2 linked regions of the Homo sapiens genome follow. The protein of the gene in region 2 interacts with the protein of the main gene of each other region in a biochemical or structural test. Each region holds a gene or a part of one and is shown on either strand. Other genes may lie near its edges.

Evidence for each region.
Region 1: the proteins of NOTCH1 (region 2) and DTX1 form a complex in vitro, tested with the Homo sapiens proteins (one study listed by BioGRID).

What each region holds. Positions count from the first base shown.
Region 1 is NC_000012.12:113,073,730-113,077,229, reverse strand, and holds part of DTX1 (E3 ubiquitin-protein ligase DTX1), read right to left. Parts: intron 1-3,500. UniProt on the Homo sapiens protein: Functions as a ubiquitin ligase protein in vivo, mediating ubiquitination and promoting degradation of MEKK1, suggesting that it may regulate the Notch pathway via some ubiquitin ligase activity.
Region 2 is NC_000009.12:136,504,549-136,508,048, reverse strand, and holds part of NOTCH1 (neurogenic locus notch homolog protein 1 preproprotein), read left to right. Parts: coding exon 1-94; intron 95-611; coding exon 612-744; intron 745-1,075; coding exon 1,076-1,333; intron 1,334-1,409; coding exon 1,410-1,522; intron 1,523-2,167; coding exon 2,168-2,739; intron 2,740-2,944; coding exon 2,945-3,376; intron 3,377-3,500. UniProt on the Homo sapiens protein: Functions as a receptor for membrane-bound ligands Jagged-1 (JAG1), Jagged-2 (JAG2) and Delta-1 (DLL1) to regulate cell-fate determination.

The sequences.
Region 1 (3,500 bases), on a different chromosome or scaffold from region 2:
CAGCACAGGCTGGAGGGTCAGGACAGGCGGCAGCCAGGGTGAGGGGGGCCGGGGCTAAAGGTTCAGCGCATAGCACTGGGGCGAGAGGTGGGCAGGGGCGCGTGGTCAGTAGATTGGGCGTAGGGGCGGGAGAGCCACCAAACAGGGTGGGGGTGCCAAGATAGCCTGGGGTAGGAAACCAGCAAGGTGTGGAGGGCTCCCCCACCCTCCACCTCTCCAGGGCCAAGACAGACACTGAAGTGGGGGTTATCACAGGCCCTGGATGGTGCGGGGGAGGGCAAAGGGGGCCTGGGGGTTCTTCAGACCAGAGTCAGATAAAGTGGGGCAGGCATAGACAGAGACCAAGGCCATGCACATAGGCCCCATGCAGTCCTCTTCTTCATTATAGTTTGCTCACTCATTCAATGATTCATTCATCAATCTGTTCATGCCTTAGTTCATTAATTTAAGCACTATTTCATTTAGTCATTCAACAATTCTTGCATTAGTTCATTCACTTATCCATGCCCTAGTTCACATATTCATATATTCCTTCATTCAATGATTCATTCATTCATTGATTCTTTCCTTAGGTCATTCATTCGTGCCTGCAGTCATCCATTATGTTATTTTATTTTATTTATTTATTTAGAGACAGGGGTCTCCCTATGTTGCCCAGGCTAAGTCTCAAACTCTTCGGCTCAAGCAATCCAACCGCCTTGGCCTCCCAAAGTGCTGAGATGACAGGTGTGAGCCACCATGACCGGCCCCACTTTTTTTTTTTTTTTTTTTCCAGGCAGAGTATTGCTCTGTCGCCCAGGCTGGAATACAGTGGCACAATCTAGGCTCAATGCAATCTCCGCCTCCAGGTTCAAGCGATTCTCCTGCCTCAGCCTCCTGAGTAGCTGGGACTACAGGCATGCACCACCTTGCTGGGCTAATTTTTGTATTTTTAGTAGAGATGGGGTTTTGCCATGTTGGCCAGGCTGGTCTCGAACTCCTGACCTCAGGTGATCCACCCACCTCAGCCTCCCAAAGTGCTGGGATTACAGGTGTGAGCCACCGCCCCTGGGCCCCTTATGCTTTTTTTAAATTGATACCTTTATGTATTCTCCATCTTCAGCCCACTCCCGTATTCAGGCATTCAGACATTCCTTCATTTACCATCATCCTATTTAAAAATGTGCACCCCCCACGTACTTTCCCCTCTCTCCTTCCCCGCTCCATTTTCTCCCTCAGATATACTTCACATTCTACCCATTTATCTTGGTTTCTGTCTGTCCCCCCCTCGCTAGAATGTAATAGCCACAAGGTCAGGGATTTTGTTTTATTTACTGCTATATCCCCAGCACCTGCACACAGCAGGTGCTCGAGCGATATTTGTTGAATGAATGAATAAATTCATTAGGTCACAAATGGATTCTTTTTTTTTTAATTCATTCACACTTTGTGCTCATCCCTGCATTCGTCCATTCCTTCATTTGCTTATTTGTTACTTTCATTCATCTGTTTGTTTCATTTGTTACTTCCTTCAACAAACAACTGCTGACTGCCAGGTGGGCCCCCTTTCATAAAGGAGGGCACTGAGGCTTTACTCCAAACCACAGCTTCATGTTTGCCAAAGCTCTGCGTGCTCCCCTGACAGCAAGGCTCCACGGGAAACTCTGGGCTAACCAGAGATAACCCAAGGTCCAGGCCGCAGGACTTCTCAGAGCCTTTAGCCTGCTCTGTGTCTTGGGGCTGATGAAGTGAGTCTTTTGCTGGGTTCATTTGGCACACCTGCAGAAAGGCTGCACACTTGACTTCCCCTCAACTGCGGGAAAGTCCCTTAAGCCTCCTCAGGCCTTAGTGGCCCCATCTCAAAAAGAGGGGTGATCATCCATGACCCAGCCCTTCCCTCTCACACAGTATTTGGGGGAGGAGTGAGTGAGAACAGCTGCAGAGGGTCTGGGTGGGACCCCAGGGCTGGGAGGCAGACAGCCCTCACTTCAAGTCCTGACTTTCTGACTTTCCAGCTCTGTGACTGTGCGTAGGCAACTCAGCATCTCTGGGCCCCAGTTTTCTCATGTTGAAAATGGGCATAAGCAGACATGCAATAGAAGACTGCTGCGTTTGCCAGCTGTAGCAACAGTTGCTTGTGGGGTTGCTGAGAGGATCAATTGAGATAAATACCGTGTCTACTCTGATGATTCCAAAATCTGCCATCTTTGGCCCCGTCTTCTCCCCTGGGAGCCAGGTTCATGACCCTTCCCTGGAGAGGTTTAACAGGCACCTTGAACTCAGCTCTGCTCTCCCCTGCCCCAAACCTGCTCCTCCTGAAGTCTTCACATAGCAATTCCTGGCAGCTCCTGCGCTTCCGGATGCTCTTCCTTGGACCCCCAAATCTTGGTCTCATCCTTGACTTCTACCTCATATCCCACCTCCAATCTGTCAGTAAATCCAGTCATCTCCACCTTCAAACACATCCACATCTGACCACTGCTCCCCACTGCACTCACACCACCCAGTCCCCGCCATGTTATCTCTCCTGCCTGGACCATTGCAGTAGACTCATGACTGGCCTCTGTAATCCATTTCCCATACCGCAGCCAGAGGGATCCTGCTCAATGCAAGTCAGATCACATCTTTCCTCTGCTCAAAATCCTTCCTGGCTTCCGCTCACTTGGAGTAAAAGCCAAAGTCCTTGCCATGACCTACAACGAAATCACACATTGTGGGGCCCTGTCCTCCTCTGGCATTGTCTACCTCCCCCTTATCACTCACTCCATTCCAGCCACCCTGGCCTCCTTGCTGTTCCTCAAATACACCAGGCACTGTCCAGCCTCAGGGCCTTCTCACTGGCTGTTCCCTCTGCCTGGAATATGACCTCACCATTCCCAGATGTTCTCATCATTTCCTCCCTTCTTTCTTACAGGTGTGTGTTCAAACATCTAAAAGTGCAGCCCTCCTATTGCTGTCCTCTGAGCTTGCTTTATTTTCCTCCCTGGCACTTGGCATTACCTGACTGACTATATATATATATGAGAGAGAGTCTTTCTCTGTCACCCAGCCTGGAGTGCAGTGGCGTGATCTCGGCTCACTGCAACCTCTGCCTCCCAGGTTCAAACGATTCTCCTGCCTCAGACTCCCAAGTAGCTGGCATTACAGGTATGTGTCACCCAGCTGATTTTTTTTGTATTTTTCGTAGAGACGGGATTTCACCATGTTGGCCAGGCTGGTCTCGAACTCCTGACCTCAGGTGATCCACCTGCCTCAGCCTCCCAAAGTGCTGGGATTACAGGTGTGAGCCACTGCGCCAGGCTGTGACATGATGTATTAATCTGCATGCATTCTTTATGCTGCGTATCCTCACTCTAGGCTGTCAGCTGCAAAGTCAGGGATCTTGTCTGCTTTGCTCACTGCTGTACTCCCAGCACCTGGCACAGTACCTGCACACAGTAGGACCTCAAAACCTGGAAGGCATTTCCATTGTTAATTGGCATCTTCCTCGGGTGCCTGGCCCAGGGATCTGCAACCAGATA
Region 2 (3,500 bases):
CAGCTACTGTGAGGACCTGGTGGACGAGTGCTCACCCAGCCCCTGCCAGAACGGGGCCACCTGCACGGACTACCTGGGCGGCTACTCCTGCAAGGTGGGGGTCCCTCCTAGGGTAAGGGTTGTGGCCGGCACGAGTGTTGCCACACACCAGGCCCTGGCTGGGAGCTGGCCCAGTGGAGAAAACTGAACCTGATAGGCCCATGCACTGTTCAGTCTCATTAGGGGAGGGCTGGGGTAATCAGGGTAGACTGCCTGGAAGAGGTGGCCTGTGGAAAGCCTGAAGGAGGGTACCTATACTGAGAAGTGGGATGGGGTTTTCCCTTCCCCTAGATTGTGTCTGGGCTTGGCCAACACCTACCCTGAGGCCCTCACCTCTATCCTATGGGACGGGGTCCACCCACCCCCAACAGGCAGTGACTCCGGTCACCGAGGCCCCGCCAGGGTCTGTTGGGCTGGGTCTCTCTCCAGGTCTGACAGGAGCGAGGGGCCCGTGGCTTCGCTGGACCTGAGGGCAGCTCATGTGGCCCTGTCAGCCCTCACAGTGGGGTGTGGGAGCACTGCATCCTGGCGCCGGCTGAGCCGAAGGGCCCCTCGTTCTGTCGCCTGCACAGTGCGTGGCCGGCTACCACGGGGTGAACTGCTCTGAGGAGATCGACGAGTGCCTCTCCCACCCCTGCCAGAACGGGGGCACCTGCCTCGACCTCCCCAACACCTACAAGTGCTCCTGCCCACGGGGCACTCAGGGTAAGGGCCGCTGCACGGAGGGCTGGTGTTGGCCATCCATGGCCAGGGCAGGGGCAGGGCAGGCACCCCGGGACCGGCCAGAGGCATCCAGGAACCAGCCAGAAACTCCCATTTTCCTGTGTGAGGCCAAGGCCGACTCACAGCTGCCCAGGGAAAGGGCCCAGAGCGGGGGTCCCAGTGGGAAGGGCGTCTCCACGGCACCCTTGACACCTGCCTCTCCCGAGTGTCCGTGCAGCCCCAGACCTGAGCGCTCGTCTTCCGGGACGGACACGCGGCACGGCAGGGCCGGGGTGTGGCGGGCTTGGGCCACTGACGAAACCTGGCCCCGCAGGTGTGCACTGTGAGATCAACGTGGACGACTGCAATCCCCCCGTTGACCCCGTGTCCCGGAGCCCCAAGTGCTTTAACAACGGCACCTGCGTGGACCAGGTGGGCGGCTACAGCTGCACCTGCCCGCCGGGCTTCGTGGGTGAGCGCTGTGAGGGGGATGTCAACGAGTGCCTGTCCAATCCCTGCGACGCCCGTGGCACCCAGAACTGCGTGCAGCGCGTCAATGACTTCCACTGCGAGTGCCGTGCTGGTCACACCGGTGGGTGCCGCGCCCAGGCGGGTGGGGCGTGTGGGGCAGCAGGGTGAGCCTCTCACTGCCCTGCTCTTACCCCTAGGGCGCCGCTGCGAGTCCGTCATCAATGGCTGCAAAGGCAAGCCCTGCAAGAATGGGGGCACCTGCGCCGTGGCCTCCAACACCGCCCGCGGGTTCATCTGCAAGTGCCCTGCGGTAGGTGCAGGGGTGCAGGGAGGCAGGGGCCCGCCAGGGGAGACACCTGGAGAGGTCCACGTGGGGGCCTCGGGGCGCAGACCGGGCAGTGATCCTCCCGGCCTTCATCCTCCTCCTCACCCTGATGTCTTTTTTTTTTTTTTAGTTTCAATAAATGATTTTAGAGACATTTTAGATTTATAGAAAAATGGAGCAGGAAGTAGACTCCCTGGGGTGGCTGTCCCCTGCACGCAGTTCCCCTGGTTAGCAGCTTGCATCAATTTCACTCTGGATTTCAGTGATACATTGTTACCAACAGCAGCCCTTCCTGTACCTGGGGCTTGCCCTTGGCTTTGTGGTTGTGGGTTTGGGCTGAGGTATGACATGCCTGCCCACCCTCGCAGGATCACGGCAGAGAGTCCCTGCCCTAAAGTCCTCAGCACTCCACCAGTTTACCCCTTCCTCCATCTCCCGACCCCCTGGCACCCCCGATCTTTCTCTGTTGGTAGAATGTGTGTAAAGGGTTTTGCTGCTGGGGGCAAGGTTGCAGGCCGCCTCCCAGGTTAGAGGAGAGCGGTGGCACTGCTGGCCGAGGGCTGGGTGTGAGGTGGCGGGGGGGCGGGGGGTGGCCCACCCCGACACCGTCCTGTCTTCCCTCTCGGGCAGGGCTTCGAGGGCGCCACGTGTGAGAATGACGCTCGTACCTGCGGCAGCCTGCGCTGCCTCAACGGCGGCACATGCATCTCCGGCCCGCGCAGCCCCACCTGCCTGTGCCTGGGCCCCTTCACGGGCCCCGAATGCCAGTTCCCGGCCAGCAGCCCCTGCCTGGGCGGCAACCCCTGCTACAACCAGGGGACCTGTGAGCCCACATCCGAGAGCCCCTTCTACCGTTGCCTGTGCCCCGCCAAATTCAACGGGCTCTTGTGCCACATCCTGGACTACAGCTTCGGGGGTGGGGCCGGGCGCGACATCCCCCCGCCGCTGATCGAGGAGGCGTGCGAGCTGCCCGAGTGCCAGGAGGACGCGGGCAACAAGGTCTGCAGCCTGCAGTGCAACAACCACGCGTGCGGCTGGGACGGCGGTGACTGCTCCCTCAACTTCAATGACCCCTGGAAGAACTGCACGCAGTCTCTGCAGTGCTGGAAGTACTTCAGTGACGGCCACTGTGACAGCCAGTGCAACTCAGCCGGCTGCCTCTTCGACGGCTTTGACTGCCAGCGTGCGGAAGGCCAGTGCAAGTAAGGCTGCGGGGCTCATGGGGCTGAGGGAGGACCTGAACTTGGATGTGGCCTGGCTTGGGCCCGGAGGCCAGCATGCAGTTCTAAGGCTCTGCTCAGGGGGTGCAGGGACGTCCCCCGCGGCTGGCCAGTGGGCTGGAGGCACCGGACGGCGGGTGCGAGGCCCCCCGAGGAAGGCGGCCTGAGCGTGTCCCGCCCCCCACAGCCCCCTGTACGACCAGTACTGCAAGGACCACTTCAGCGACGGGCACTGCGACCAGGGCTGCAACAGCGCGGAGTGCGAGTGGGACGGGCTGGACTGTGCGGAGCATGTACCCGAGAGGCTGGCGGCCGGCACGCTGGTGGTGGTGGTGCTGATGCCGCCGGAGCAGCTGCGCAACAGCTCCTTCCACTTCCTGCGGGAGCTCAGCCGCGTGCTGCACACCAACGTGGTCTTCAAGCGTGACGCACACGGCCAGCAGATGATCTTCCCCTACTACGGCCGCGAGGAGGAGCTGCGCAAGCACCCCATCAAGCGTGCCGCCGAGGGCTGGGCCGCACCTGACGCCCTGCTGGGCCAGGTGAAGGCCTCGCTGCTCCCTGGTGGCAGCGAGGGTGGGCGGCGGCGGAGGGAGCTGGACCCCATGGACGTCCGCGGGTGAGTGAGACCCGGCGCCCACGGTCAATCCCCGCAACTCTCCTGGGCCCTCCCCGACGGCCTCCCTGCCCCTCACGGCCGGCGCCATGGCAAGCAGTACTCTCCCCACTTTATGGTAAAAGAG